7 linked regions of the Homo sapiens genome follow. The protein of the gene in region 3 purifies or fractionates together with the protein of the main gene of each other region. This does not show direct contact. Each region holds a gene or a part of one and is shown on either strand. Other genes may lie near its edges.

Region 1 (4,458 bases), on a different chromosome or scaffold from region 3:
ATCCTCCCACCTCAGTCTCCTGAGTAGCTGGGACTGCAGATGCATACCACTACACCCAGCTAATTTTTCAATTTTTTTTAGTGATGGAGTCTTGCTCTGTTGCCCAGGCTGGTCTCAAACTCCTGGGCTCACGTGATCCTTTGACCTCAGCCTCCCAAAGTGCTGAGATTATAGGCATAAGCCAAGGATTCTCACTCTTAATGCATTCTCTTTTCTTTGGACAGATCTGTGGTTTTTCTACTTGAAGGACACAATGTTTTCCAAACTAGCACATTTGCAGAGGTTTGCTGTACTTAGTCGCGGAGTTCATTCTTCAGTGGCTTCTGCTACATCTGTTGCAACTAAAAAAACAGTCCAAGGCCCTCCAACCTCTGATGACATTTTTGAAAGGGAATATAAGTATGGTGCACACAACTACCATCCTTTACCTGTAGCCCTGGAGAGAGGAAAAGGTACGTTTCAAATTAATCCGTCTTTTCCCTTTTCTTGAAACCTTTTATAAAAAAAAATTGCTTCCATATTTTCACAATATACATTTTTCTAGATGTGTTTAATGTGTATATTGCAGACATGGTTAATTCTTCTTCTTCTTTTTTTTTTTTTTTTTTTGAGACGGAGTCTCACTCTGTCACCCAGGCTGGAGTACAGTGGCACAATCCCAGCTCACTGCAACCTCTGCCTCCCAGGTTCAAGCGATTCTTCTGCCTCAGCCTCCTGAGTAGCTGGGACTACAGGCGTGCGCCACCACACCCAGCTAATTTTTGTATTTTTAGTAGAGATGGGGTTTCACCATGTTGGCCAGGCTGGTCTCAGACTCCTGACTTTGTGATCCTCCCACCTTGGCCTCCCAAAGTGCTGGGATTACAGGTGTGAGCCACCACGCCTGGCCAGTTAATTCATTTATTGAGTGTCTAGTGCTGCTGTGTTAGGTGCTATGGAGGCTTCAAAGAGGAACCATTGTCTTTGTCATGTAGACCTTACCAAGAGGGAATGCAAGAGAAATAAGGAAAGTACTATCATATTGCTGTCATTTTTTTCTTTTAACTTTTATTTTGGCATAGTTTTAGACTTAAGAAAAGTTGTAACAAATAGTACTGACATTTTCCTTTTATACTTCTCCCAGATTTTCCAAGTGCTAACTTTTTGCTGCTTTGGTCTTAGTGTGTTCACTCCCTTCTCTTCTCCCCCCGCCGCCTGCATATTCTACATTGTTTTCTGAACTGTTTTGAGAGGAAGTTGCAGACATGACATCTCTTCTTCTTTTTTTTTTTTTTTTTTTTTTTTTGAGACGGAATGTCGCTTTGTCACCCAGGCTGGAGTGCAATGGTGGGATCTCGGCTCACTGCAACCTCTACCTCTCGGTTTCAAGTGATTCTCTTGCCTCAGCCTCCCGAGGAGCTGGGACTACAGGCCCACGCCACCACGTCCAGCTAATTTTTGTATTTTTAGTAGAGACAGGGTTTCATCATGTTGGCCGGGCTGGTCTCGAACTCCTGACCTCAGGTGATCCACCCACCTCAGCCTCCCAAAGTGCTGGATTACAGGCGTGAGCCACCGCGCCCCGCCACATGACATCTCTTTACCCATAAATACTTAGTGTGTCTTTCCAAAAACGCAATGACTTTTTGAGATAGGGTCTCATTCTGTTGCCCAGGCTGGAGTTCAGTGGTGTGATCATGGCTCACTGCAGCCTGGAACTCCCGGCTTCAGGTGATTTTCCCACCTCAGCTTCCCAAGTAGCTGGGACTACAGGTGTGCCTTACCATGCCTGGCTTATTTTTTGTAGAGATTAGATTTTGCTATGTTGCCCAGGGTGATCTTGAACTCCTGGTCTCAAGTGATCCTACCACTCAGCCTCCCACAGTGCTGGGATTGCAGGTGTGAGCTACTGTGCCCAGCTGACTTTCTCTTTTATAACCATAGAGTAATTGTAAAAATCAAGAACTTAACACTGGTACAGCACCATTAGTCTAGAGACCTAATCCAGATGTCATTTGTTCTCTTTTATAACAAAAGAAAAACCTCCGATGAGTTGCATTCAGTTGTCATGTTTAGTCTTCTTTAACCCAGAACAGTTCCTCAATCCTTGGTTGTCTTGGTCTTCTTTCCCTTTGTATTAAGTATCTTGTGGGGACAGAGTGTAAAACTCTGTAAATATCCAGTTACTCATGAACTTTTACTCACAATTTCAGCATCCACTAATGATTCTTGCCTGAATAAATGATTACGGTGGTAGTTGCCAAATGGTGATTTAATCTACAATTTGGAATAAATAACAGCCTTAACCAAATAAAACCAAAGTTTATTACTTAGCTTTGTACCAGAAAATGACAATATAAGAGTATCACACATTTTGGTCATTTGCTTGTATTTTATTTGGTACCAGTACTGTAGACATATCTTCTTTTGAACTATTGAAAATCTGTTTCATATTACATGACATGGCAACCTTGTTTTTACTTTCCCACTAGCAATGTATGAGAGTGCCAATTTCTTCAGATCCTTGTCAAAAGTTGTTTTTTTAATTATAACCATCCCAGGGAGTATGAGATGGTATCTCATTGTGGTTTTAACTTGCATTTTCCTAATGATTAGTGATGTTGAACATCTTTTCATGTGTTTCTTGCCATTTGTATATCTTCTTTGAAGAAATAGCTATTCAAGTCTTTCCCCATTTTTTAAATTGGGTTGTTTGTCCTTTTGAAATTGAGTTGTAAGAATTCTGGATATTAGATCCTTATCAGACACATGATTTACAAATATTTTTTTTCCATCCTAAGGGTTATTACAGTCTACTTCTCATGATTTTTGTCTGTTATGTGTAACTTCTGCTTTTTTATTTTTAAATTTTATTTATTTTATTTTTTTTTTTTATAGGCAGGATTTTGCTCTGGTGCCCAGGCTGGAGTGCAGTGGCACAATCTCAACTCACTGCATCCTCTACCTCCCAGGCTCAAGCAATCCTCCCACCTCAGCCTCTGTAACGGGACCATACGCGCGCACTACCATGCCCAGCATTTTTCTGTAGCGTCAGGGATTTTGCCGTGTTGTCCAGGCTGATCTGGAACTCCTGGGCTCAAGCAATCCCTGCCTTGGTCTCCCAAAGTGCTAGGATTACAGGCGTGAGCCACGGCTCCCTGCCTAACTTCTGCTTTTAAATTCTAATTTTGGATCCTAAATCTTAGAATTAGGTAAAGGTTTTACTCCAGAGTTTATAACCTTTTTGTGTTATTTTTGTTAAATGTGTGTTTTGAAGCTGGGCAGATAAAATACAATTCTTAGTAATTCCTTACAAACCAAAGTTTATTATGCCTGAGCTAAAACAAGCTTTAACTACAAATATGTATTAAATAGAGGTTCATATATAGGCATTCAGAGGGCTTGCTAGCACTCTTAATTTTTGGACTTTATGCCGTATAGTAATTGTCTAAAATTATTTTCCTTTCTTATGTATTTTAGGTATTTACTTATGGGATGTAGAAGGCAGAAAATATTTTGACTTCCTGAGTTCTTACAGTGCTGTCAACCAAGGGCATTGTCACCCCAAGATTGTGAATGCTCTGAAGAGTCAAGTGGACAAATTGACCTTAACATCTAGAGCTTTCTATAATAACGTACTTGGTGAATATGAGGAGTATATTACTAAACTTTTCAACTACCACAAAGTTCTTCCTATGAATACAGGTAAAACATTTCCTTTTTTTGTTAAATACCCTCAAAAATAATCTTTTTATTTTTTGATAGTTTAACATTTTAAAAAAATCTGAACATTTTTCTCTCCTGATAGGAGTGGAGGCTGGAGAGACTGCCTGTAAACTAGCTCGTAAGTGGGGCTATACCGTGAAGGGCATTCAGAAATACAAAGCAAAGATTGTTTTTGCAGGTATGTGAAATTAAATATTAACTTCTATGATTGAAACATACAATATAATTTACTGTGGCCAGGCATGGTGGCTCATGCCTGTAATCCTAGCATTTTGGGAGGCCAAGGCAGGAGGAGTCTTTGAGCCCTGGAGTTCAAGACCAGCCTTCTGGGCAACATAGGGAGACCCTGTCTCTATTTAAAAAAAAAAAAAAAAAATATATATATATATATATATATATATACACACACACACACACACACACACACACACACACTTATATATTTTATATATAAAAAACATATATATATGTGTAAATTTACTGTTTTAATTTGCTGATGAAATACTTGTAATATGTTTTGCCTGGTACATGATACGTATTTGCTGAATGTTTCATAAAAATTTATGAGGGATTTCCTCTTCTTGGGATTATTTCTTCATATATGAGATTTTTCTTTCTGAACTCCATATTCCTCTCATTTGCCTGTCAGATTTTTTTCATAGCAGTTATCCAGTTAATTAGATAGTCTCACTGGTGGAGGGTTTGTGTTGGGTGCTGGGGTTGGGTGAAGTTAGTGTGGGGCCATGGCCTACA
Region 2 (4,458 bases), on a different chromosome or scaffold from region 3:
TCTGAGAATCAGATTGATTTGTATATGCTACCCCCACACCCTATCCTTAAAGTGCTGTCTTCCTAGGACAATGCACAGTTTGTCCTATCCCACTCACTAGCAGCTTACCCTTGCCTGTGAACAGCCAGAAGAAGATGACAGGGACATGCTTGGGTCCTGGGCAGTGGCCCTACTGTATAGAGATTCTTCTAATTGAGAAATCACTTTGTTGTATTTAGCCCCACATCTCCAATGTCTGTGTTATCTCTAGGAAAACAGTTCCACCAGGAATTCTTCGTCTCGCTTTTAGACTTAAAGTTTCCCTGAATATGGGTCACAGGAACCAGCTGAATCTCCTCATGGCTAGTTATTTTTATTAAATAACAAAAACAGCCTCTTAAAGGAGGAGAAATGCTAGCACTCACCATTCTGGACATCTTGAGAGCCCAGTAAAATGATGAGTTGGACTGAAGTGTTCAATAAACATGAGATTGTGGAAATAATCTCATTTCTTAAGACAAACCAGTAGTTGAGAATAATGATTGCATTATGAAGGGCACGTTATAGGGTCAGGCTCTGCCACGCTCTAGCTAGGTGGCCTTGGGAAAGCTCTTTTTTTTTTAACAAAGTAAAATGGGGAAATGATGGCCATTTTTTTGGATTGTTATGAGGGCTAGCTCAGAAACCGCGTGTGAAACATAACACAATACTTTGTTCAGAGAAGATACTCAATTCTAATGGTAAATAGAATTGCTGTTACTAGCTTTTTATTCAACTACACATAAATTGAATTGCATGAATTGTTCTTTTAGTAGTCACTACGTTGTTTATATAAACACTACGTTGTTTATATATTTCACTTTATAATGAAATAAATGACAAGGCATGTATTTTTTTTTTCTTTTTAGGTTTATTGAAGTCAAAATGTCCAAAAAAATCAGTGGCGGTTCTGTGGTAGAGATGCAAGGAGATGAAATGACACGAATCATTTGGGAATTGATTAAAGAGAAACTCATTTTTCCCTACGTGGAATTGGATCTACATAGGTAAATGAGTTACCCCTCCGTGTAGCAAACTCAGAAAGGATAATCTGGCTGGGCATGGTGGTGCACACGTGAAGTCCCAGCTACTTAGGAGGCAGAGGCAGGAGGATCCCTCAAGACCAGGAATTCAAGTCCAGCCTGGGCAACAGAGTGAGACCCCATCACTTTAAAAAAAAAAGGAAAAAAAAGGGAAGGAGAAACAGGAAAAAAAAAAAGAATATAATCTGAATTATTTTGAGGTGAAGTTAGCTTTTTTTATATAGATATAGCTGTGTTTTGTGAATAAAGTTTGTTTTAAGCCTAAATATATTCAGATGAATCTTCTAATTTTAACATACTGCTAGAAAAACTGGATTTATCATCTAAAAGTCAAGAATTATAAGGGAAAGAATGATTTTCAGATTCTTCTAACCTTCTGTTTCCTGTGAAGGTTTTATTTGTAATAAAACAGTGGCTAAGAATAGTACAATGTATTGAGAAAAGGGAAATAAGAGAGGATGTAAGAAACAGTAAACTAAATGCAGTTAACACAATTTTGTCATTTCAAACTCAATTTTCTATCACTTTACTTAGTCAATGGACCTGTTTCCTTTTCATGCCTCACCTTTTGCCCTTTTCATACAATTGTAGTGCAGAAAGAATTCATGATGTTTCTTAGTTGAACCCCTCCTTTCCAGCAAAATTCCCTTAAATCCTGTGTCCCTTTGCCCTGTGTGTAAAGTGCCTGGGGACAGATGCAAAAGTCTATGTAATTCTCTCATTTTTTTCGCTGTGTTTTTCATAAACTTGCTTCTGTTCTTTGTACCTTTAGGTAGAGATAGAATTTTTAAAAGGGTAAAGTGGCTGAAGACTGGCATAGAAAAATATTGAGCAACACGTTTCAGCCAAACTATTGGCAACTCTAAGTGTGTTTGCCTCAGCCCAGAATTAGTCATCAAAATTTGTCCTAAGGACCTGTTTGAGTGGAGACATTTAATTCACATAATGTCATTAAACATACTTTTTAATTGTTCTAAACCTAAGCTGCTGATGTCTATATTGAAATCATGATAAGATATAAATACTTGCAGAAGTCAACCAAACATAAGAAATTAGGCATAAAAACATCTTCCAACTAGGTTAAAAAAAAAAAGCATCTTAGGAACTCCTGTTTCAGGACTTTACATGACAGTAGGTGAACTGGCAGGGTTCTTTTCCTTATAATGGCTGCAACTAAAGATGCTTTGAGCCTCTTTAGTGTGGAATCATGAGGAGTTTTAAAGGGGAGTCACTATGACTAGGAGGAAAAAATTTGGTGGCTGCAGACTAGATAATTTTTGGAGGCTCAAACAAGTTTTAAATTTTTCCAAAATTCCTATTATTATCACTGACTGGTTCTTTTTCAGGAGAATGGAGCAGGTAGTTTGTTTTATGTAGGCTGGACAGTGGTCTGGGCAATTTGTTCCTTCCTTTCTTATCTTCTTAGAAATGTTAAGAAGACAAGCAAAAAATCTAATAATTTGCTGATAGATTCTCCTTATGAGAAATGGTTCCTAGGAACTTGAAAACTACTGATCATACTTCCTGTTGGAGTTGGGATTGGATCAACATTTCCTATGCAAGAAGATAACAAAGGACATGACTTTGTTAGATTTATATGAATTATCTAAAGTCGAAGCAGTTGGAAGTTATTTTTATTTGGAAATATGTCAAGATTACTATCTCTTTGTTTGCATCATGAGTTGGGTAGGAGATCTAAGAAAGGAAGATAAGGGAACCAAAAAGAAATCTAGAGGCAGGTTTTAAGAGCTGAAAAACCTTTTAAATCCTTGGAGAACAGAATAAACAAAACATTATTTTGTTTTCTTGCTTTTTAACAAACTATTGCATGCTTCAAATAAAGCTTTGCAGTCATTTTCTATGCTCCCTGGACAACTAACATTCTTTCAGCTCTGAATGACCTGCAATCTTTGTGTTGGTGTATATTAAGCTATTACTCTCTGGTATGTAGAAAACCATTGATGGATTCCTTTACTTACCCAATAAATTGTAGGCTTGTTTCCAGAGCAAACACTTGCTCAAGAATTACAGAAGGAATTAGCTGGGCATGGTGGTGCATGCCTGTAGTCCCCGCTACTGGGGAGGCTGAGGCGGGGGAATCACTTGAACCCAGGAAGGCAGAGGTTGAGTGAGCCAAGATCGTGCCACTGCACTCCAGCCTGGGCAACAAAACGAGACTCATCTAAAAAAAAAAAAAAAAGGGAAAGGCTCATTTTATGACTAACTGGCATTAATGAAGTAGTCATTCGCATTTTTGGCATCAACTGTCACATCTTTACCTCCCACCACTTCAACGTCAAAATACAAAAAATCCTTTAACCCCTCCCACCCCCTTTTATTTTTAAAGAGCAATATTTACTAAGGGAAAAAGGTGGTCCTTAGACTTACACTTATTATACTAATTATATGGAGAGAAACCAGGCCATTATTGCCTCTATCTGGTGAAAAACAGGAGGCAAAGGGCAGAGTTTGATGGTTTCCATTCATTTTCCTGATAGACAGCTTCCCATTACAAGAGGAGGGGCAGCCCAGCAGTCTAGCCTCTCTTAGTTCTCTTTGTAGTTGGCACCCATCTTCTGTGTTTAGGGTGTGCCAGTGCTAAAACTTGGCAGATTTTGGTGTACTCAGAGCCTTCGCTTTCTGCATAATGAGCTCTATATGCCATCACTGCAGTTGTAGGTTATAACTATCCATTTGTCTGAAAAACTTTGCTTCTAATTTTTCTCTTTCAAGCTATGATTTAGGCATAGAGAATCGTGATGCCACCAACGACCAAGTCACCAAGGATGCTGCAGAAGCTATAAAGAAGCATAATGTTGGCGTCAAATGTGCCACTATCACTCCTGATGAGAAGAGGGTTGAGGAGTTCAAGTTGAAACAAATGTGGAAATCACCAAATGGCACCATACGAAATATTCTGGGTGGCACGGTCTTCAGAGAAGCCATTATCTGCAAAAATATCCCCCGGCTTGTGAGTGGATGGGTAAAACCTATCATCATAGGTCGTCATGCTTATGGGGATCAAGTAAGTCATGTTGGCAATAATGTGATTTTGCATGTTTTTTTTTTCATGGCCCAGAAATTTCCAACTTGTATGTGTTTTATTCTTATCTTTTGGTATCTACACCCATTAAGCAAGGTATGAAATTGAGAAATGCATATATGTATAACTGTATATTTACACACATTTAGCTAAAGGCAAATACAAATAAACTTACAAATAGGCGTCCATCTCAACACATTTTTTTTCAAACATGCTGTTTTTTTTCCTTTATCCTTTTATTCAGTTATACCATATGATATTGCCATTTTTATGTTGGTAATTTCATATGGTTCAACCAGATCTGTGGTTTTCAACACTGGCTGCACAATAGGATCCCCTTACAAGTTTTTTTGG
Region 3 (4,458 bases):
ACGCCCAGAATCAGAAGAAAGGAATCTGGATTAATGTTCTCTGAGTTTTCCTATCAAATAGAAATTTCAGTCAGTAAAATTTACGATATAGATGAAATTACTAATTGAGGCTTTCCAAACTGTCGAAAGCAGCAGCCTGTAACAGTCTATTTGGACCATGACAAAATGACTGAAAGGTTAGAATATACTTTTAGTAGGTTAAATCACGAGAATAGCATCAATGAGAACAGTTCAGTACTTCAAACAGTTACCTTCAATTTCTGTATCAACTTGTGTACCACCTTTCCCCTTCCCAGACTTGATTTTTGCTGATCCTGTGTTTATACCACCAGCAATTTGTCCTTTTATAAGTCCATTATGTTCATTAATGGGAGAAGGGCATTTCTGGGGTGATGATGGTGGACTGCTCATTTTATCTTTCTGTGTTCCTTGGCGATCCTTCAATTTTTTCTGCAAACGTTCATATGTTTTACTAGATCGTTCATCTCTAAAGTTGGACCTTCCATGTGTAGAGTGAGCATCTAGGAGGCAATAAAAACAAAATGTTAAGAAGATCACTTTCTCCAAATAAGTTTATGCCATGAAAAAAGAACAGAAAATAAATCTATCATATAAAACTTTTATAAAATATTTAAAAGAATTTTGCATAACAAAGCAACCTTTGTGTCTCCATAAACTATCAGAACCAAGCTTTGTGATTTATTCTAATTATATATATCTCTCTCTCAAGTAAATTTACAGAGAGATTTATTTCCTTCTGTTCTCAACTAATTATTAATCTCCATAGAAACAGCTTGGTGGTAACTTATGATTATTGTAGGTGAGGAATGAGACTGGAGCTGAGCAGTCCACAGTTCTTTTTCTTTTACTCTTTAGTAACTATTACTTTTCACATCTTTTTGAACCTTAAACACATAAAATAGGTAAAAAGAAAACCACTGCCTGCCTAAATTCCCTTATAACTCAAAAAAGCAATCATCACTGAAAAAAAGTTAGCCAAAAGAAATGATTTAGACTGTTTAACAATAACAATCTACATATAATGTATCTTCAGATACTATAAACTCAAGGTTGTGATTTAGAAGAATCCACTCATTCTAATAAAAGTCACATAGGAACATAATTAAGTCATTATGCTCAATAAATATTAATTCAATTGTCCCCAGAGTTTTTTAAATTTAAAATTTGTGATGAGAAAAATATTTTTTAAAAGCCTCAGTAAAAAGTTTTAATTTAGCAGTGCCTTAAGAAAATTAGTACAGTATTTTTGAAATGAGTATTATAAGGATATGTACAATAACATTAGAATGAACGTGGACCTCTACCTCACACCATATACAAAAATTAATTCAAATGAATCAATGACCCAAATGTAAGAGATTAAACTATAGAACTCTTAGAAGAAAACACGTCTCTATGACCTTGGATTTGGCAATAGTTTCTTAGACGAGACACCAAAAACACAAGCAATCAAAGAAAAAATTAGATTTCATCAGAATTAAAAACTTTTCTGCACTAAAGGATACCACAAGGAAAGTGAAAAAACAACAAGGGAGGAAATCATATATCTGATAAGGAACTTGTATCCAGAATATATATACTCTTACCTTTCAACAATAAAAAGACAAATATCCCACCCATTTAAAAAATGGGTGAAGAATTCAAATAGACATTTCTCCAAAGAAAATATATGAATGGGGCTGGGCGCAGTGGCTCACGCCTGTAATCCCAGCACTTTGGGAGGGTGAGGCAGGTGGATCACAAGGTCAGGAGTTCAAGACCGGCCTGGCCAAGATGGTGAAATCCCATCTCTACTAAAAATACAAAAAATTAGCCGGGCGTGGTGGCGCGCACCTGTAATCCCAGCTATTCGCGAGGCTGAGGCAGGAGAATCATTTGAACCTGGGAGGCAGAGGGCAGAGGTTGCAGTGAGCCGAGATCATGCCACTGCACTCCAGCCTGGGCGACAGAGCGAGACTCTGTCTCAAAAAAAAAAAAAAAAAAAAAAAAAGAGTGAAACTCCATCTCAAAAAAAAAAAAAAAAAAAAAAAGGAAAAGAAAATATACAAATGGCCAATAAGCACATGAAAAGATGATCAACATTAGTAGCATTAGGGAAAAGCAAATCAAAACCATAATGAGAGAGAAATTTATTCAGGATGCCTACAATCAAAAGACAGACGATATCAAGTTTTGGCAAAGAAATTGGAACCCTCATACATTGCTGGTAGGAATATAAAATGGTGTAGTCACTGTGGAAAAGTAATATAGAATTAACATATGACCCAGCAATTCCACTCTGAGGCACATACCCGGAAGAAATGAAAATATGTCAACACAAAAACTTTTACACAAATGGTCACAGCAGTATTGTTCATAGACAAAAAGTGAAAACAACCCAAAGGTCCATCAGCTAATGAGTGATAAAATGTAATCAACAGAATGCAATATTATTGCAGCCATAAAAAGGAACGAAGTACTATTATATGTGAGAACATGAACTTTGAAAACATGACATTAAGTGAAAAAAAACTAGACACAAAAGTCTACATACTGTATGAACATTTTAATGAAATTTTTATATGAAATACTTATATGTATATTTATATGAAGTCTAGAATAGGCAAACCCATACAGACAGAAAGTAGATCATGGGATGTGAAGGAACAGAGAGTTGGGACTGACTGTTAATATGCACAGTTTCTTTTTTGGGATGATAGAAATGTTCTGGAATTAGACAGTGGTACTTAATACAGTACATACTGAATATAGAAAACATTGAGTTGCATATGTTGCACAATAAAGTAAATATATTAAAAACCACTGAAGTGTAAAATGATGAACTGTTACCTAAATTATATCTCGACAAAAAGTTAAGAAAAATAGCAACTGCAATCAATTAGATCAATTAGTACATACTTTAAAATGCTTTATCTATTATTCAAAATAATAAAGCTACCATGGAAGAGAAAAAAGAATATATTATAGTAGAAAGAGAAGGAACTTAATCATTGAATAGATCTGAGAGGGTTAAAATTCTGAGCAATTAACTAGCAGTGTGGCCTTGCAGAAATTACTTAACATTTCTGAGCCTCGGTTTCCTCATTTGAATTTTGCAGAATTTTATTGAAAATTAAGTGAGATAATACATGTGTGAGCATAGTGCCTAGCAAGGTTCAGGCTCACTAATGGTACTGCTAACAGTGAAATGCTGGATCAGATTCCACTTTGAGAATCCATATGGATTGTGCATGGAAAGGACATCACGGAGGTATAGCCATTGGTTAGAAAACCAGTACTGTCAATAATTAGCATTTAGTGGTAGAATCTCTGGCTTATAACCTCAAGTACAACATGACTCCTCCCTTTTACCACTGGGTAGCTAATTTGTGGATTTGTGCCCTTCACTTTCCTTCATATCAATGTAGATCACATCCATGTATTCTAATGCATATCCCTACAGAATAACAAGGGGTTTTAACAATGCAAAATAGTAATAATTGTAATACTAGCTTTTTCTTATAGTTTTCTCAGATTATAAGAAAAAATTAATATTTTTAAAACTAAGTCATAATTAGCAGTAAACAAAAATAGGATGAGACTAATCTGCAGTATAAACTTTTGGTACTCAAAAGTATGTTCCTTGGAGCACAGCATGAACATCTCCTAGGGGCTTGTTAGAAATGCAGAATCTCAAGCACTACCCAGAGCTACTGAACCAATTTGCATTACTTGGGCAATAGAAATAAGTTTGACAAATACATATGATGTGTACAATATATCCACTATTTACAGGCTGTGTTGTGTAATTTCAATTTTGTATTTGAAGTTATTTCTTCTGCAAATGTACTGAGCATAAGTGACAGGCAATGCTAAGTGCAGGGAAACAATAGTGATTAAAATAGATTCAGTTCTTAGGGAGTTGATAGTCAAATAAGGGAGACAGCCATACAAATACACAATGACAAAAAAGAAATTGTGTTAAGTTCTGTGAAAGATACAAAGTTCAGTGCTAGAGACTAACAAGGTAAGATCAGGAAGGTCTCTCTGAAAACTGAAATCCAAAGGTTAAAGGAAATTTACAGAAAAGGCAGAGAGAACACCATGTACACAGGGACCGAGGCAAGAAAGAACTTGGTGGTTTTGAAAAACTGAAGAAATAAGGGGACTAAGGGGAAGCAATGGGACAAGGAAGTCAGGGGCCACAGGGCAGAACATTGCAAGAGCAGTTTGCAACCAGAACTAATTTTGGTTCCTAGGGATCATTTGGAAATGTCTGGAGATATTTTTAGATGTCAGAATATTTAAAATGTTGTGTCAGAGTTGTGTGCTACAACTGTGCTACACAATGGCAGTTAGTGAGTAGAGGCCAGGGATGCCTTTAAACATCCTACAGTGCAGAGTTTTGTCCTCTACAATGAAGACTTATCCGTCCTAAAACATCAATAGTGGCATGTT
Region 4 (4,458 bases), on a different chromosome or scaffold from region 3:
TGTGCGCGCGCGTGCGTGTGTCCATCCAGAGTTGTACACACAGGCAGGTTCTCATCCCAGATATCCTCAGTTTTACTAACTTATGTCTCCCTCCCTCCCTCCCTCCCTCCCTCCCTCCCTCCCTCCCTCCCTCCCTCCCTTCCTCCCTTCCTTCCCTTCTTTTTCTTCCTTCCCCGCTTCCTCCTTTCTTTTCTTTCATTGTTTTTGGAGACAAGGTGTCATTCTGTTGCCTGGGCTGATGTGTGATGATGCAATCTTATCTTACTGTAGCCTCAGACTCCTAGGCCCAAGCAATCCTTCTCCCTCAGCCTCCCAAGTAGCTGGGAATACAGGTGCATGGCACCATGCCTGGCTGATTTTAAAATTTTTTGTAGAGATGGGTCTTGCTTTGTTGTGCAGGCCCATCTTGAACTCTTGGGTTCAGACAATCCTCCCACTCAGCCTCCCAAAGTGCTAGGATTACAGCTGAGCCACTGCTCCCAGACCAACTTTCACAATATATTAAGTGAGAGAAAGGAAAGCAGATTTCACAGTAGCGGGAAATGGTTACATTTTATTTTGTTTTTAAAGTTTATATGTGTATTTTTACACAAGGGGAAGTCTAGAGGTATATAGGGGTGCGTGTGTGCGCGTATGTGTATATATAGATGTGTGTCTTTATATACATATGTTGATGATAGTTGCCTCTGGATATGAGATTTCAATCATTTAAAGTTTATTTCTTCTTTCTTGACTCTTTTTCATTCAGTAAACTTTTTTTTTTTTTTTGAGGTGGAGTCTTGCTCTGTCACCCAGGCTGGAGTGCAGTGGCACGATCTCGGCTCACTGCAGCCTCTGCCTCCCAGGTTCAAGCGATTCTCCTGCCTCAGCCTCCCAAGTAGCTGGGATTATAGGCGCACGCTACCATGCCCGGCTAATTTTTTATATTTTTGGTAGAGATGGGGTTTCACCATGTTGGCCAGGCCAGTCTCGAACTCCTGACCTCAAGTGATGCACCTGCCTCGGCCTCCCAAAGTGCTGGGATTACAGGTGTGAGTCACTACACCTGGCCCATTCAGTAAATATTTATTGAGCTATTGCTGTGGCCAGTCATTGTATTTTCTGAAATATTATTTGTACAATTAAATTTGATATTAAGGATATTACAATTACAAATGTTTTCACTAAATAATTAAAATAATGACTTGGTTATTAAAGTGGTATGTTATTTGGAAAATTCATTTACTTGCAACACTACTCATGAAAAGTACAGAATAAAATGAAATGTTAGTGCAATGTGCTGAAGCATTCAGCCAATATGATGCTAATAGGAGAAATGATTTTCATTTGTATGAAACAGTCTCTATCCAAGGTAGCCTTCATGTGGGAGGAGAGATGTTTGCATGCTCTACATTGCTTTTATTTGACTCAGAAATAGTTTACATAGGTGAAAAGAATCGCTTTTTCATGATGAGTAGCCATAGATGCATGTTTTTACTTTTTTTTTTTTTTTTCCAGACAACTACAAGAACAGCAACGGCAAAAGGAGCTGGAGCGGGAAAGGCTGGAGCGAGAAAGAATGGAAAGAGAAAGGTTGGAGAGAGAGAGGTTAGAAAGGGAAAGGCTGGAGAGGGAGCGACTGGAACAAGAACAGCTGGAGAGAGAGAGACAAGAACGGGAACGGCAGGAACGCCTGGAGCGGCAGGAACGCCTGGAGCGGCAGGAACGCCTGGAGCGGCAGGAACGCCTGGATCGGGAGAGGCAAGAAAGACAAGAACGAGAGAGGCTGGAGAGACTGGAACGGGAGAGGCAAGAAAGGGAGCGACAAGAGCAGTTAGAAAGGGAACAGCTGGAATGGGAGAGAGAGCGCAGAATATCAAGTGCTGGTAAGAAGTTTACAAACTCTTCTGTGTTCTTGTATCTGAGCTTGGATGATGTCTCTTGTGCAGTCATGTGTTAAAATATTTCACATTTGAGATGTTTGGGATTAAGCCATACAATTTGAAATTATGAATAAATATGCAGCAATTACTACTTTAACATTTTCTTTTTATTTCTCTCTGTATTGCTTTTATTGCTTGGAGACTTAAAGAAAGCTCTTGGAAATTTTTATTCTGCCATTCTAATTCTTCTAACACCCTATAAAATGGCTATAAAGTGTAAGTGTGTTTTTATGGGAAATTTTTTATACTGGATGAACTTCAAATATATTTCCCTCATGAGATCACTTAAATTGTCTCAAATACTATAGTACTGTAGTACCATTCAGCAAGAAATTTGCTTGATTGCATTCTAAAGATTTTGGAGGAAGAATTATTTTAGAGAAATATTCTCTAAGACTAGTTATTTAAATATGCTTTCTAGTATTATGAAAAATTAGTGAAAATTATGGAATCTGGAATTTACTGAAAGACATAAGGGTTAATATATGGCTGAAAGTTTGAGATATTTTAACGTTTATTAAAATTAACATTCATTATAGGATTTAAGAATATTCCTTATGGCCTAATTAAAAAGTCTTAATGTGGTTTGATTAAACAGTGGTTGGTTGGTTGGTTTATTAAGTTAATTTATGTATTTTTAGCTACCTAATTATTTTCTGGAGTTATGGCCAACAAAACAAAACTTTTCCACAAGTTAGCATTGAATAGGAGCATTGAACCCTTCATATTAAATGTTTTGCCAGCTTTACTAGTTTTGCTATTTGTTGTTTTTAAAAAAACAACTAAATTTATTCTTCTGTTTATGGTCCTATTCATGTGATTTTAATGTCCTTTTTCTTGTAGACTAAATAAAAATTAAGACTAATACTAGCTTTTTCTTGTAAAAGAAATTAGTCAATTAAATTTATTAATCCACTTATTAGATAAAAGGAAACTTATTTCATCCCCTTCTGAATCTCAAAATGTATTTACAAGTTAAAATATTCTTGGGTGAAAATAGTTATTTGCGTTTGTGCCTAATTCTCTGATACTAACTGTAGTCTACATTTATACATTGTGTCTGAATGCTGGTTTTGTGGCTTCACTAGCTCCCTTTTTCTCTCTCCTTTTTTATCCTGTCTTTTGCTGCTGCTTTCCACCTTCTGTCCAGCTCCATCTTCAGACAGCTCCCTGTATAACGCTCCACTTCCTGAGTATTCCAGTTGCCAGCCTCCTTCAGCACCTCCTCCATCATACGCTAAAGTCATCTCAGCTCCAGTGTCAGATGCCACTCCTGATTATGCTGTAGTGACTGCTTTGCCACCTACTTCCACACCCCCTACACCACCACTGCGACACTCAGCGACACGTTTTGCAACATCTTTAGGTTCAGCCTTCCACCCTGTTCTTCCCCATTACGCTACAGTTCCTCGTCCTCTGAACAAAAACTCTCGACCTTCTTCTCCTGTGAACACACCCTCTTCTCAGCCTCCAGCTACGAAGCCCTGTGCCTGGTCTACTTCCAATTTTTCGCCCCTCCCTCCATCTCCTCCAATAATGATTAGCAGCCCCCCAGGCAAAGCTACTGGTCCAAGGCCTGTCCTCCCTGTTTGTGTTTCTTCTCCTGTGCCCCAAATGCCTCCATCACCGACAGCACCCAATGGGCTGGTTGACTCTGTAACATATCCAGTGTCTCCACCGCCTACCTCAGGGCCAGCAGCTCCTCCGCCGCCGCCTCCACTGCCTTCCCTCGCATCACTCTCACACTGTGGATCTCAAGCTTCTCCTCCTCCAAGCACCCCTATTGCCTCAACTCCCTCATCCAAGCCTAGTGTTCTCCCTTCTCCCTCTGCAGCTGCCCCTGCCTCTGTTGAGACTCCTCTAAACTCTGTGCTGGGAGACTCTTCTGCTTCTGAGCCAGGCTTGCAGGCAGCCTCTCAGCCGGCCGAGACTCCATCCCAACAGGGTAAGGCTTTCATTATTGCTACTAACAGCTAATCACTTGAAAATGTTATATAGCAGTGACTTTAATTGCCTGAATGGATGGGTAGGATGGTTTTGATCCTTGAACATTTATATGCCATAATGCCATGCTTTTTTTTTTTTTAATTAAAAAAATTAAAGTAGAAAAATGTTTTTCCTGTTGGATTAATTGCATTTGGAGGAATTTCCTTATTGAACTAGGTTTTGATATCTTTTATAGTATCGCAGTTAAAGATGTTTTCTAGTATTTAAGAGCCCCTCATAATACATTTCTTTATTTTTTTCTTTTTTTTTTTTGTTTTTTTGAGACAGAGTCTTGCTGTGTTGCCCAGGCTGGAGTAGAGTGGCACGATCTCAGCTCACTGCAACCTCCACCTCCCGGGTTCCAGCAATTCTCCTGCCTTAGCCAGCTGAGTAGCAGGAGTTACAGGCACATGCCACCACGCCTGGCTAATTTTTGTATTTTTAGTAGAGACAGGGTTTTGTCATGTTGGCCAGGCTGGTCTTGAACTCCTGACCTCATGTGATCTGCCCCTTCGGCCTCCCAAAGTTGCTAGGATTACAAGTGTGAGCA
Region 5 (4,458 bases), on a different chromosome or scaffold from region 3:
GAAAGGTAAGGTTGCCAAACCAGTCAGATTCAACCCGCCTCCATCTCCAAAATTCTGCCAGAGACAGGACTGCCTGCAAACAAATAAGGCTTATGCCACAGAAAAGAGCAGACTCAAAAGTGTTTTTCTCTTCACAGATGGCACCAAGATAGCAGCACAGAAGGTGAAAACTGGTGAATGGCATTTAGAGACAAGATCTGCAAGGCCTGCGCCTGATGAAGCTTTTGCATGAAACTCAAGCGCTGGGGAGAGAAAATAAACATTTCCATCTGAAAGAGCAGGCTTGGTGTTGGTCTGCTCTGGGCAGCATTTATAGTTCAAGGCTGTCCGGTTGTGCACAGAATGCAACACCTAGAAGGTAGTCCCTTTCCTCAAGGTGTGCAGACTGCTATTTCAAGATCTTGTACTAATCCTTCCCCTACCCCCTGTGTAGATACTCCATCCTTCAAAAGGGCAAGTCCCACAGCTCTCAATAGGGCCTTCCAGGAAAAGCCATCACAGAAGGATATATCCACTGGTTTGGGCTGGGTGATGGTGGGGGCAGAGAGGAGGGTGGCAGTGGGTTTTCCAGACTTACTCTGTCTACTTATTCCCCTCATGAGCCTCAGGCCTTTTCATTTCCTCCAGCACTACCTGGGATCTACCTTAATTTTCCCCACTTTCCTTTTCCTCTCCTGGTCCACCTTCCCCTCTACTCTACCTCGACACTGGGTCAGCCTCTACTTTCCCAACATTCAAGCTGTTCCAGTTACACTTATTTGAGGCATCTTTTCCCATCTTGGGGAACAAACAACAGCAATCCTATTCTCTGTCCCTCTTCCCTGTCACTGGCTGAACCCACTCCCACACACACAAAAAATCACCATGGATCCTCTGGCAAAAAGGGCCCGTATTAGAGCTGGGTTCATCCTTCAGTGATTGTATCAAAGATGGGCTGGGATCACCATGAAGAGAGAGTTTGGAGAGGGGGTGTCAACTGTTAGCCTAATCAGCCAGACTGGGTTTCTAGTGTATGGATATAATTAATTTATTTCACCAAAGCGATGGGGATAGGGATATAGTTAAAATTTGCGGGTGAAAATACAAAATCAGGGAAAAGCCGGGAAGAAACAATTCTCAGAGCACTCCAACAACCCTCATCCAGATTTAGGAAAACTAAGGGACAGGGAAGCCATTTTCCTATATAAAAATCCTCTGTTTGCCAGGCGCAGTGGCTCACGCCTATAATCCCAGCACTTTGGGAGACCAAGGCGGGCGGATCACCTGAGGTCGGGAGTTCGAGACCAGCCTGGCCAACATGGAGAAACCCCGTCTCTACTAAAAATACAAAATTAGCCAGGCGTGGTGACACATGCCTGTAATCCCAGCTACTCAGGAGGCTGAGGCAGGAGAACTGCTTGAACCCAGGAGGCGGAAGTTGCAGTGAGTGGAGATCGTGCCATTGCACTGCAGGCTAGGTAACAAGAGCGAGACTCCGTCTCAAAAAAAAAAAAAAAGAAAGAAAGAAAAAAAATCATCTGCTGATAATAAGCCCCTGTCTCCTTGAGGCCCCCAGATTTGGTGTCTGTTTACAAATACTCAGCTTCATTCAGGCCTCTGAAATTTTCACTCCTGGTGTTTCCTAAGGACAGAGTTGCTGGACAATACAAGGCATCCTCCTGTCCCTCCCCCACCTTCACCCTCACCTCTCTGAACAGTTCACATTGTAGGGAGACCAAACCACAATAGCTCCACAATGACAAAAGCTGCAAAGAAGCGGCCAAAGGCATAACCCTATTCACCAGCAGCCCCTGGAAGCCAAGAGCTAAGGTTCCTCGCTTGGGGTACTCCAGAGGTAAAGTCCCAATGGGGGTGGGCAGAGAAGAATGTGAACTGGAGATACACTCCTTTTTCTATTTCCTCAGCCTAGGGCTGTCACCTGTCACCCAGCTGTGGTGTTAAGCCCCTCCTGCCCCCCACATACAACAGAGAAAGAGAGCAGATGTTGAATTTGAGCTGCAGGGAGGGACCAAATCAAAGGGTGGGGTGGAGGGATTGTTGAAAGAGAGTTACTATGAGAACTCCCACTAGGAAAAAGTATTCTGAGCCTTTTCCAGAACAAGGCAGGACTGCTCAAACTTTAGCTGGTGAGATTTTTCTAGGAACTACATTTATTTTTATATTTAAGATTCAAATTCATATTTGGGAAAATGTGACCAAGACAATGAGCCTTAAGGTGCCGTCAGATCCTTTACCTATAAAGGCATCACCAGTATTCTTATCAAGAAGTATCACTGCCTTTTGGAATTCTAAAAGAATTAATCACGTTTTCTTTAGGGCTATAGCGTCTGGAAAAACTGCATAAATTTTTTTCTCCTTGTGTAAATGTAAGACGTTACTTCTCCTAGGTAGACAGGTAGAAGGCTTTTTCCAAAGTTTGACTCATATCTAACCTTCAGATATAAAAATCCTGAAGACCTGCCACAAGTAATGCTGGGATTCACAACTGGAGACTTTAATGTGGATATTAAACAAGTCTCACAAATAAAGACTTAGAGACCCTAATATCCCAAAACGGAAGCCTCACCTTCTGCAGTCTTGCCACCTTCTCATAGCATCCTTCCAACTCTTGCCTCAAGTTCCGGTTCTCGTCTGAGAGGATCTCAACCATCTGCTGGGCTCTGGAAACAATGGCAAAAGGGTCTGCTGGCACTGGCTGATAAGAAGCAGAGGATGGCTGAGCCCGAGGCATAGCTGAATAGGCTTCTCCTGGCTGCTGCTGTGGCTGCTGCTGCTGCTGTTGTTGGTGGTGATGGTGATGATGGTGCTGCTGCTGCTGTTGCTGCTGCTGCTGACTCAGGCCAGGTTGGGAGAGACGGTAATGATCCCCCTGGTGAGCCTGATTAGGAAGGAAATGCTGCTGCGGCCTAGGCAGGTGAGCTGAATGGTCTCCCTGGTTTGGGACCAAGGGGTGTCGGGCAGGAGACAATCTAGTGGATGGTGGAGATTGTAGCAAGGGCAAGGACCCCCCAGAGGTCAGAGAAGAAGTAGGGCTGTGAGGCTGCGAGTTCCTGGCTGACAATGGCAATGAGATGTCCTGCGCTGGCCTGTAAAACATGAAGGGCAGGTGCGGGTTAATTTCTCTCCTAAGGCACTGGGGGAGAAGGGCACACAAAAGTGAGATGAGGAGGCTTCTGATGCCCCCAGGACACCTGCAAAATGAAGAGCAGGCAGGGTCTGACTATGGGGAAGTCTAACCCTGCCTGCTCTATCTCTGCAAAGACCACAGCCCTTTTCCAGCCTGACCTTCTGTGCCTCTGCCTGACAAACAGAGGTGTGATCCCATGAGGGTCAGAACCAGACAACTTCCATGGTCACTTTGTGAAAATCGTAGTGATACACACCTGTACACCCGTTTGCTCAAGTCTAAACATTTCAAACGATTCTTCTACAAGGTAATTTTCATCTCATTATTTTAAATTAAACCTTTTCTGACATTATACACGTGGTCCAGCACACATAAAGATCCTAGTTTAGAAACTATGTTCCATTTGCCAGGATGGAAACAACAAACAGCCATAAAAACCACCCCCATCTTGCTATCTGCAACTCCCTTTAGTAATTCATACATTCACAAAAAAAAAGAAAAAAAACTATTCAAGGATTGGTAGATACTTATATTAGAGACACTAAATGATTATTGTTGCTTCCAGTTGTTAACGATTTAATGATTCCCATTAGCAGTAACCATAAAAAGACTTGAAGAGGGTTACAAGCAATGCTAACATACTATTTTTGATGTAATGAATCGCAAAATGTAAGAACTGGAAAGGCCTTAAAAGAAAATTATTTAGTTCAACTCTATCACTGGACAGATGGGGAATGAGGTCCAGAAAGGGGAAGTCATCTGCCAAATATTAGAGTGGTGGTGCCAAGATAGAATCCTTCTTTCCCAATTCCCATTTTCTGGCTTTTTCTACTGCCATAATGCATTGATTTCTGTGCACTGATACTTAGATTTCCAACCTATTGCTCATAGAAAGTTCCAGAAAGAGACCTTTGGTACATTGTTTAATGTGGCTCTCCCATTTTTGTACCTAATTACCAGGTACAAAATGCTAACACCTAAGTATAAATAATTCATACCTAATGACTATTAGCCATTAAGGGAAACAATTAGTATGTGGATGGATCACTTCCACCATCACCACTACCAGGAATAGTATCTGTCAGTGTGCACTGAAGACAAAAAGCTTGTTCATGCCCTAGCTCATGCCCAATTAACCTCATATGCTCCCATGTCCTGTGGACACTTGTTCTACAGTTGATATTTCTCAATCCAGGGAAGACAGATGGCTAAGTGCATGGGATCTGGATCCCAACAGAGGGAGTCTGGAGACCTCTTCTACTGCTCACGAGCTGTGTAACTTGGTGCAAGTTACTTAATCTGCATGAGCCCATTTTATTCTTGAGGTCACA
Region 6 (4,458 bases), on a different chromosome or scaffold from region 3:
TATTAGGTGGATAGATATCTGATAAAGCAAATACGGCAAAATATTAGTTATAGAAACTAGATGGTGGGCATGTGAATGTTCATTGTTCAATTTGTTCAACTTTTCTGTATGTCTGGAAATTATTGTAGTAAAATGTTTGGGGGGTGGTGAGGAGAAAAATAACTTTGCTATGGAAGTAACATAGTACCTCTGTTATATGGCTTTTCCTTAAACTCTGCCATCTTTTACAAACTAGAGGTTTAAACCCTTGCTTCCTAATTGGAAAAGGATTAAGAAAATGCTGGGTATGGTAACTCATGCCTGTAATCCTAACACTTTGGGAAGCTGAGGTAAAAAAATTGCTTGAGGCCAGGAGTTTGAGACCAGTCTGGGAAACAAAGCAAGACTCTCTTCTCTACAAAAAAAAATTTAAAAACTAGCCAGGTGTGTTGGCACACCTGTACAATCCCAGCTGCTCAGGAGACTAAGGCAAGAGGATTGCTTGAGCCCAGGAGTTTGGGGCTACAGTGAGCTATAATCACATCATCTTACTACAGCCTGGGCAACAGAGAAAGACTATCTAAAATAAAAAAAAAGAAATAAAGAAAATGGTTAAGAAATTAATCATTTTCCCCAGCTCATCCAATAAATGACCAAGGGAGATGGGATTATCCTACTCAGAGGAGTAACTATAAAGAAAGTTAAATCTCAGTTTTAGGCTCCTAGTTTCAAGCGTAGTTTTTCTTTACGATACAGATTACAGCCTAGTGTTAATTTATATTAAATTTTATATTGGTTTTATGAGCTAATGATAATGCTAAAAATTCATCTTAAGTTGTTTAACATGAACTTTCAGTTAAGGTGTAATGCATGTTTTGTTGTTATAGCCGTTTTTGTTTTTTTTTTAACTTAGTTTCTTTGCTTATTCAAGGGAAGAAAATCAGGTTTAGTTGGTGTCTATATGAATGATAGACCAATTAAATGCTTTTACTTTCCAGTTGCTGGAAGACCTGGGTCAAATTGGTATATAAGGACATGGATTTCTTATGTAACAATAAATAGAAAATTAGGACAGACCTCAGGCTGAACAGCAGTATCATTCAGGACTTAAGTATTTTTCTCCTGTTATCATTCATAGCATTAACTTCATCCCAAGGATGGTGCCCCCTCTAGTTGTTATAAGATGCCTGCTGACACAGTTATGGCATATTCTTCCTGGTTCAGGTTCAGTGGAAGAACACTTCTCCTGAACAGAGGATAATTTATCTTTCCTTCAGCTGATTGGCTGACACAGGCTGCATGACTAGTGCAGGTCCAGTAGCAATTGCCAGGGGCGTGCCTTGGGCAGATGAGCTTAAGCGAGGTCACTAAATTAATCATCAGAAAGGGGTGGTACCAGGACTTAGACTAATCAGTAGTCACCTGGACTGGATAAAAGGGGACCTCTTTTAGGAAGGAGGTAAAGAGAATAGAGGCTGCTTAGGCCACATTATCATTAGCTCATAACAATAGTAGAACCTTCAGTTTAGAAAAATCAGTTAAATGTTTCAGTTACATCTTAACTCTTCATTAAATAACCGCAACATAAATTTAGAAATTTGAAGTGTTCATAGAACTGTCTTCTTGTTATCTGATTATTTCTATTTGGAAATAAGTGGTAATGTAAATGTGGACATGTGATTAAATGGTTTCCTGATTTAACATAACTAGCTTAATAATGATTTTTTTTTAAATCCAGAAGAGTTTAACTTGAAACAGCCTTGGTATTTTTATAGCTTAACTCAAGAATATTTTAAAATGCTTTTTATGGCTGCGTGCAATGGCTCATGCCTGCAATCCCAGCAATTTGGGAGGCCAAGGCAGGTGGATCACCTGAGGTCAAGCGTTCAGGACTAGCCTGCCCAACATGGCGAAACCCTGTCTCTACTAAAAATACAAAAATTAGCTGGGTGTGGTGGTGCATGCCTGTAATCCCAGCTACTTGGGAGGCTGAGGCAGGAGAATCACTTGAACCCAGGAGGTGAAGATTGCAGTGAGCCGAGATCGTGCTACTTCACTCCAGCCTGGGCGACAGAGTGAGACTCCATCCCCCCAAAAATAAAAATAAAAATAAATAAATAAAATGCTTTTTATAAAAAGCAAAACTAAGGTAAATGATATGTGTTCATCTATTCGTAGCAATACTTATTGTATCTATCACTATCAGTGTTCTTGTACTGGCATCCTTTATTAGCAAATTACTTGATAAAGGTGACATTACAGTTTTGTGTCTCCTAATTTACTTTCTTGTGCCTCAAGATCACTGTTATAAAGATGAAATACATATGAACCAGAGGGTGAAATAAAGGCAATAACACCAAAGATACTGGGTGTGAAATATGTTTTTGACCAAGGTAAAATAAAATAAACTTGCAGTTAGACCAGGTTGGATTCAAGGAGTCCAAATTTGAAAAATATTTTAATTTATTTTCCTTTTCCTGAAAATGTTCTAGTTTGAGTAATGAGAAGAGGAGAATTTGCCTAGAGGTCTATTGACTTTTCATTTGTACCAAAATTAGTCTTTTAGTTATTTACACATTTCAGGAAACCTGGTTGCTTTGCACACCATCACAATTGGTTTTGCTCGTAAAAGGAATGAAATTCTCTTTTGTTTTTCAACAGGCATTGCGGCCTCATTTGCTGTCAAGCTTTTCAAAGCATGGATGGCAGAAAAAGATGCCAACTCTGTTACCTCGTCTTTGAGAAAAGCCAACTTAGACAAGAGGCTGCTTGTAAGTGTTTTCTGGTTAAAGAGTTGTATGTATGATGCCTTTCTTGGAGCTTAAGCAATGCCTGCAATGTAGTATATGAGTAAGATCCCTGGATCTGTGTTGACTTGGAGCACTGTTCCTTTTATTTCTGTGTAATTGGTAGTAGAAGCTAATTTCATTTTAATCTTTATTTTGTGAACAAATGGCACAATAAAATTAAAGAATTGTGAAGAATATAGACTTCCAAATTTGTAAGTTTGTTGACATAGTATTAACATTTCATCAGAATTAAGACTTTGTTTTATAGCCATAACTTTTTTACTTTTTTTTTTTTTGAGACAGAGTCTGGCTCTGTCACCCAGGCTGGAGTGCAATGGCACAATCTCGCTCACTGCAACCTCTGCCTCCGGAGTTCAAACAATTCTCCTGCCTCAGCCTCCCGAGTAGGTGGGATTACAGGTGCTCTCCACCACACCCAGCTAATTTTTGGATTTTTTTTAATAGAGACGGGGTTTCACCATGTTGGCCAGGTTAGTCTTGAACTCCTGACCTCAAGTAATCCGCCCACCTCAGCCTCCCAAAGTGCTGGGATTATAGGCGTGAGCCACCACACTCAGCCTATAATCATAACTTTCTAGACATTTTAAGGTTTTAATATGATAAAAATTTCATCAATCTCACTTAATCAAATACTTGTGATGTCTGTCTTGAGTAGCAGTCAGACTGTGCTAATCTCAAATGTGTGTTAAATAGTTTGCTAACAAAATAAAAGTTTAAACAAGATTTCCCTGGAAATACTTAAGCTGTTGCAGAAATTAAACAAGTTAATTGTGTCACAATTGCTTGATTATATTTTTATTTCTCCATCTTTGTGTTTTTCTAAGAAAATCCAGAAAAATATTTTGTTCTTGTAATTTCTATCTGCTCCCTACAATTTCTTTCTTCTTGATGCAGCAGCTGTGAAATGCCAAGATTTCTCCAGGTGGAATTGCTTTTACAGTTCTAGGATGAAGTGTAAAAATAAGACACAGCGCTGCCATCTCTTCACCTGGCCTGTTCTCTGTTGTTCTCTTCCAATGTGTTTCAGTGTGCAAGGGTCCAGTCCCATGAGATAATTCTAAGACTATCTCTTTTCCTCAAGAACACATGAAAGTAATTTTAAATGTAAATACTTGCAATTTAAATCACTTAAGAATACTTTGTTTCTTGAAGTTTACCTTAAATAGATTTGTGTGTTTAAAGTTTTTAGATTATGGTAAAAAAGGTACAGAAGTCTAGATTCTAGTTCATAATAATTTTCATTCCTCATGTTTCCTGAATGTCTACCCTGTGCTGGGCATGGTACCACAAGCTGCAGAGCCAGTAGAGAACAGGATAGAAAAGTTGCCTGCCCTCGTGAAACCTACTTTCTAGTGGACTTAGGGCAAATCCCTGTAAACAGAAGCAAAAGTCACAGAAGATAAGTGAATAGGTTGCTGAGGAAGGTGGAGGTTCATATGAAGGGAACATATTTCTTGTCCATGAGGCTGTGGGTTGTCTATAGATTAGCTCTATCTTGGCTAAGCCTGGCTTAGTTCCACATGCCTTTTCATTCGGGCACAGGCTGAGGGAGCAGCTCCCATCTGGGCCATTCTGTCTTCATGGCAAAGTACCAGAACACAGAGACTGAACTGAACGTCTCAAGTACCTTAAAAACTCACCTATGGACGCTGCCATGCCTGGCAATAGA
Region 7 (4,458 bases), on a different chromosome or scaffold from region 3:
CTACAAAAACTTTAAAAATTAGCCAGCTTTGGTGGTATGTGCCTATTGTCCCACCTACTTGGGAGGCTGGGACGACAGGATCACTTGAGTTCCGAGGGTCAAGGCTGTAGTGAGCCACGATCATACCACTGCATTCCAAACTGGGGAACAGAGTGAGAACCCGCCTCAAAAAAAAAAAAAAAGTAACATAAACAACTGGAAAAGAAAATATGGAGAAAAATATCCATCACATAGGTAAATAGCAATAAGTTCTTGCACATTTATAGTTTAGGATTATTCAAGCCATGACACTCTTCTGATACTATATATTTTAGAAATATAGGCACTTATCTGTTCTCACCAATTTTTATAAATCCACTTTGTCAAATGAAACCGTGCAGTTAGGAATTTGTCATAGATGATGAGAAAATGACTGCCTTTAACTATGTACAGAAAAGTCAAACAAAAGATTGATTGAGGAGCCCAGAATGAATTTACCGGCTTAGTATAATCTAGATAATATTCATATGTGAAGACATTAGGTCAAAGAACAAAAGGTGTGAGTTTAATTTCAGCATATTTCTATCTGTAATCTTTATAAAATCTACTCAAAGAAAGTACTGTGACTATTCAGCAGTCTAGTATTATGTAGGGAAGAGAACACTGCACAGACAGACCACCCAAAGCAACCCTGACACTCAGAGAAATTAGGTAGGCAAAGAGGTACTAATCAACTAGCATAAAAGTAACTAGAAATTAAGTGGTAGGAACATGAAAAAATATATATGTTTAATATACACCTCTTGATTTTTGATCAGACACCCACCTTCAAGCAGTACTTTTACCAACTGACAATTTTTAGAGACTTTCTGGAAAAAAAAAAGATAATTCTTCATGATCTAGCTTTTTACTTAATAGCTCTGTACTATGATTAATTTCTTTATGAACACCTACTATAATTCTTTGGCCCTAACGATATATAACTCTCCCCCCAACAGCTGACAACGTCCTTCCATATTCCCTCAGGCTAAGTATTCACCTGGCACTAGTATTCAACAATAACATGACAAGTACACAAGGAGGTTCCAAGCAGCACTATTTGTAATATCCAACTCAAATGTCTATCAACAGTAAAATAGGTAAATTGTGATTTAAATAGAGAGTATTATACAGCAACTAAAATGAAAGAACTACTGCTGCATGCAATGAGTGAATCTCACAAACATAATAATGAATGAGAGTAGCCAGATACAAAGGAGCACATACTGTATGATTCCATTTTATATAAGTTCGAAGGAGGCAAAACTAATCAGTGATGATAAAAGTCACAATAGTGGTTTCCTTTGGTGATGATAAGGACTGGGAGGGGACATGAGGAGGCATCTGTGGGGCAGGGACACTCCCTACCTTGATCTCGGTAATAAGTACATGAGTGGTCACTATACAAAGATTCATTGAGATATACACTTATGATCTGCACACTTTTCTGTAGCCATATTATATTCCAATAAAAAGTATACTTAAGAAAAAAGAAGCAGCATTAGAGAGCATGGAGAAAGTAAAACAAAGCAAAGAAAATTGAGGGAGGATTAGAAAGAGACTGACTGGAATAAATGTACAGAATGGAAAGAAAAATAGTTGCTTACTTTCAGATTCTAGGAGAATGCTACCTCAATGTTAGGTATTTTCCCAAATATCTTTATACCTTTCTGTTATTATGAACAAATTGAATGTTTTCTTTGTTACTGAGATCCAGCTCAGTCCAATCTCTTACCTGCTTTGGATAAAAATAAGCTCATTCCACCAGAGCCTGAGCCAGCTTCCAAAACAGTATCACCTGGGTTGATATCCATCATTGAGAGAATCATATTAATATCCTATGATTGAAAACAGTATGGGTGACTCAGCGACCAATAAATATGTACTAAGCACCTAGTCTTATCTTACATTGTTGGGTGTGCAGAAGAAGGGAGTGAAAAAACGAATCAGACTCTGGACCTGCCTTCAGTTTATATTTCACTTGATGAAATAAAAGAGATCCAAGAATCAATTAACAAATAAGGCAACACTTCAGAATAATACCAAAATTACAGACAATAAGTTCATAGAGTAGCAGGATGGCCTAGTTTAAAGACAAAGAGTAGACAATTTATGGGAACAATCACAAGGTAAAAACAGCTTTAAACAAAGCAGAGGTAGAATAAATCCAGTTTGTTATCTCAGGAGAGATAGGCAGAGAATTAAATGCCAGTATGAGGCATTAGAACTCAGCCTGATAAGCAACTAGGGTGTGTCACTGAGGTGATATAAATGGCATTTTATGAGGATTAATCTGGCAGAAGAATACAGGATCTACTGGAGAAAAATCAAGAGGCAGGAAGACCAGTTAGGAATTTACTATATAATCTCTGCATAAAATGATGAATTTCCTTTTTTTTTTTTTTTTTTTTTTTGGGAGACGAAGTCTCACTCTTGTCCCCCAGGCTGGAGTGTGATGGCACGATCTTGGCTCACTGCAACCTCCGCCTCCCGGGTTCAAGCGATTCTCCTGCCTCAGCCTCCCGAATAGCTGGGATTACAGGTGCCTGCCACCATGCCCGGCTAATTTTTGTATTTTTAGTGGAGATGGGGTTTCACCACGTTGGCCAGGCTGGTCTTGAACTCCTGACCTCAGGTGATCCGCTCGCCTCAGCCTCCCACAGTGCTGGGATTACAGGTGTGAGCCAGTGTGCCCAGCTCAAAATGATGAACTTCTTATTTTTGGGGGGACAGAGTCTCGCTCTGTCACCCAGGCTGGAGTGCAGTGGTACAATCTTGGCTCACTGCAAGCTCCGCCTCCTGGGTTCAAGCGATTCTCCTGCTTCAGCCTCCCAAGTAGCTGGGATTACAGGCACCCACCACCACACCCAGCTAATTTTTTGTATTTTTAGTAGAGATGGGGTTTCACCATGTTGGCCAGGCTGGTCTCAAACTCCTGATTTCAGGTGATCTGCCCGCCTCGGCCTCCTAAAGTGCTGGGATTACAGGTGTGAGCCAACGTGCCTGGCCAAATGATGAACTTCTAATTTAGAATTAAGATACTATATAACAGCGGTCCCCAACCTTTTGGGCACTAGGGACCCGTTTCGTGGAAGACAGTTTTTCCACAGACTGGGGAGAGGGGGATGGTTTTGGGATGAAATTGTTCCACCTCAGATCATCAGGCATTAGTTAGTTTCTTATAAGGAGCATGCAACCTAGATCTGGTGCATGCACAGTTCACAAGAGTTTGCACTCCTATGAGAATCTAATGCCATGGCTGATCTGACAAGAGATGGAGCTCAGGCAGTAATGCTCACTACCCACCGCTAACCTGCTGTGTGGCCCGGTTCCCTGTTACAGGCCACACACTGGTACCAGTCCTCAGCCTGGGGGTAGGGGAGCCCTGCTATATAAGAAAAAAAAGAGACTATGCTATTACTAGATTGGAGGACCCACTTGCCAAACATATAATTGGAATTGTTTTTGTTAACACAAATATTACGGATGATATTAATAAAAACTGTTTTTTTAAATTTAGTAAACAAATTTTCTTGGTGACAGGGTCTCTGTCACTCAGACTGGAGTGTAGTAGTGCAATAGTAGCTCACGGCAGCCTCGAACTTCTGGGCTCAAGCAATCCTCCTACCTCAGCCTCCAAAGTAGCTGGGACCACAGGCATGTACCACCATGCCCAACTAATTTTTTTTTTATTTTTTATAAAGATGGGGTCCTGCTATGTTGGCCAGGTTAGTCTTGAACTCCTAGCCTCCAGCAATCCTCCTGCCTTGGCCTCACAAAGCACTGAGATTACAGGTGTGAGTGACGGCACCTGCCCCCTCACTTTTTTTTTGAGATAGGATCTTACACTGTTGCCCAGGCTGGAGTGCAGTGGCAAGATCATGGCTCGCTGCAGCCTCAAACTCCTGGGCTCAAACAATCCTCCCATCTCAGCCTCCTGCGTAGCTGGGACCACAAGTGTGTGCCAGCATACCTGGCTAATTTTTTATTTTTTGTAGAGACAAGGTCTCCCTATGTTGCCCCGGCTGGTCTCAAACTTCTGGGCTCAAATGATCCTCCTGCCTCAGCCTCCCAAAATATTGAGATTACAAGTGTGAGCCACTGCACTCTGCCTCTGGTCATATTTTTAATACTAAGATGGAATTATGTAATTCTAACAGGGAGATCAGTTTTTAAACATCAGTGAAGGTATTCCCTCAAGCATTTCAAAGTTGTAGAAGTTGAAGTAAAACTATCTCCAGCCATTACTTGGAAGCTATAAAGAGAAGTCAACACCTAACAAATTTAGTACTTAAATTCCTCCTTAGAGTGGAACAATGTGACTTTTATCTGTAACAAATGGAAAGGCAGAAAGTATACTAAATATGCATATTTATAACTTCATGAAATGTAACTAATCTCTCCTGATTTTGTCTAATGGGGAGAAAGGAGACACGGGGA

The links.
Region 1: the proteins of FNDC3A (region 3) and OAT purify together in Homo sapiens (affinity purification with mass spectrometry, with the first as the bait; one large-scale study listed by BioGRID). This does not show direct contact.
Region 2: the proteins of FNDC3A (region 3) and IDH1 purify together in Homo sapiens (affinity purification with mass spectrometry, with the first as the bait; one large-scale study listed by BioGRID). This does not show direct contact.
Region 4: the proteins of FNDC3A (region 3) and ENAH purify together in Homo sapiens (affinity purification with mass spectrometry, with the first as the bait; one large-scale study listed by BioGRID). This does not show direct contact.
Region 5: the proteins of FNDC3A (region 3) and AMOT purify together in Homo sapiens (affinity purification with mass spectrometry, with the first as the bait; one large-scale study listed by BioGRID). This does not show direct contact.
Region 6: the proteins of FNDC3A (region 3) and BZW2 purify together in Homo sapiens (affinity purification with mass spectrometry, with the first as the bait; one large-scale study listed by BioGRID). This does not show direct contact.
Region 7: the proteins of FNDC3A (region 3) and TRMT61B purify together in Homo sapiens (affinity purification with mass spectrometry, with the first as the bait; one large-scale study listed by BioGRID). This does not show direct contact.

The regions. Positions count from the first base shown.
Region 1 is NC_000010.11:124,407,967-124,412,424, reverse strand, and holds part of OAT (ornithine aminotransferase, mitochondrial isoform 1 precursor), read left to right. Parts: intron 1-224; 5' UTR 225-253; coding exon 254-452; intron 453-3,459; coding exon 3,460-3,684; intron 3,685-3,787; coding exon 3,788-3,883; intron 3,884-4,458. UniProt on the Homo sapiens protein: Catalyzes the reversible interconversion of L-ornithine and 2-oxoglutarate to L-glutamate semialdehyde and L-glutamate.
Region 2 is NC_000002.12:208,247,997-208,252,454, reverse strand, and holds part of IDH1 (isocitrate dehydrogenase [NADP] cytoplasmic), read left to right. Parts: intron 1-887; 5' UTR 888-903; coding exon 904-1,025; intron 1,026-3,794; coding exon 3,795-4,086; intron 4,087-4,458. UniProt on the Homo sapiens protein: Catalyzes the NADP(+)-dependent oxidative decarboxylation of isocitrate (D-threo-isocitrate) to 2-ketoglutarate (2-oxoglutarate), which is required by other enzymes such as the phytanoyl-CoA dioxygenase.
Region 3 is NC_000013.11:49,132,395-49,136,852, reverse strand, and holds part of FNDC3A (fibronectin type-III domain-containing protein 3A), read right to left. Parts: intron 522-4,458; coding exon 252-521; intron 1-251. UniProt on the Homo sapiens protein: Mediates spermatid-Sertoli adhesion during spermatogenesis.
Region 4 is NC_000001.11:225,516,605-225,521,062, reverse strand, and holds part of ENAH (protein enabled homolog), read left to right. Parts: intron 1-1,497; coding exon 1,498-1,865; intron 1,866-3,072; coding exon of another isoform or gene 3,073-3,756; coding exon 3,757-3,867; intron 3,868-4,458. UniProt on the Homo sapiens protein: Ena/VASP proteins are actin-associated proteins involved in a range of processes dependent on cytoskeleton remodeling and cell polarity such as axon guidance and lamellipodial and filopodial dynamics in migrating cells.
Region 5 is NC_000023.11:112,812,792-112,817,249, forward strand, and holds part of AMOT (angiomotin), read right to left. Parts: intron 3,087-4,458; coding exon 2,567-3,086; intron 1-2,566.
Region 6 is NC_000007.14:16,687,157-16,691,614, forward strand, and holds part of BZW2 (eIF5-mimic protein 1), read left to right. Parts: intron 1-2,640; coding exon 2,641-2,750; intron 2,751-4,458. UniProt on the Homo sapiens protein: Translation initiation regulator which represses non-AUG initiated translation and repeat-associated non-AUG (RAN) initiated translation by acting as a competitive inhibitor of eukaryotic translation initiation factor 5 (EIF5) function.
Region 7 is NC_000002.12:28,863,264-28,867,721, forward strand, and holds part of TRMT61B (tRNA (adenine(58)-N(1))-methyltransferase, mitochondrial precursor), read right to left. Parts: intron 1,857-4,458; coding exon 1,754-1,856; intron 1-1,753.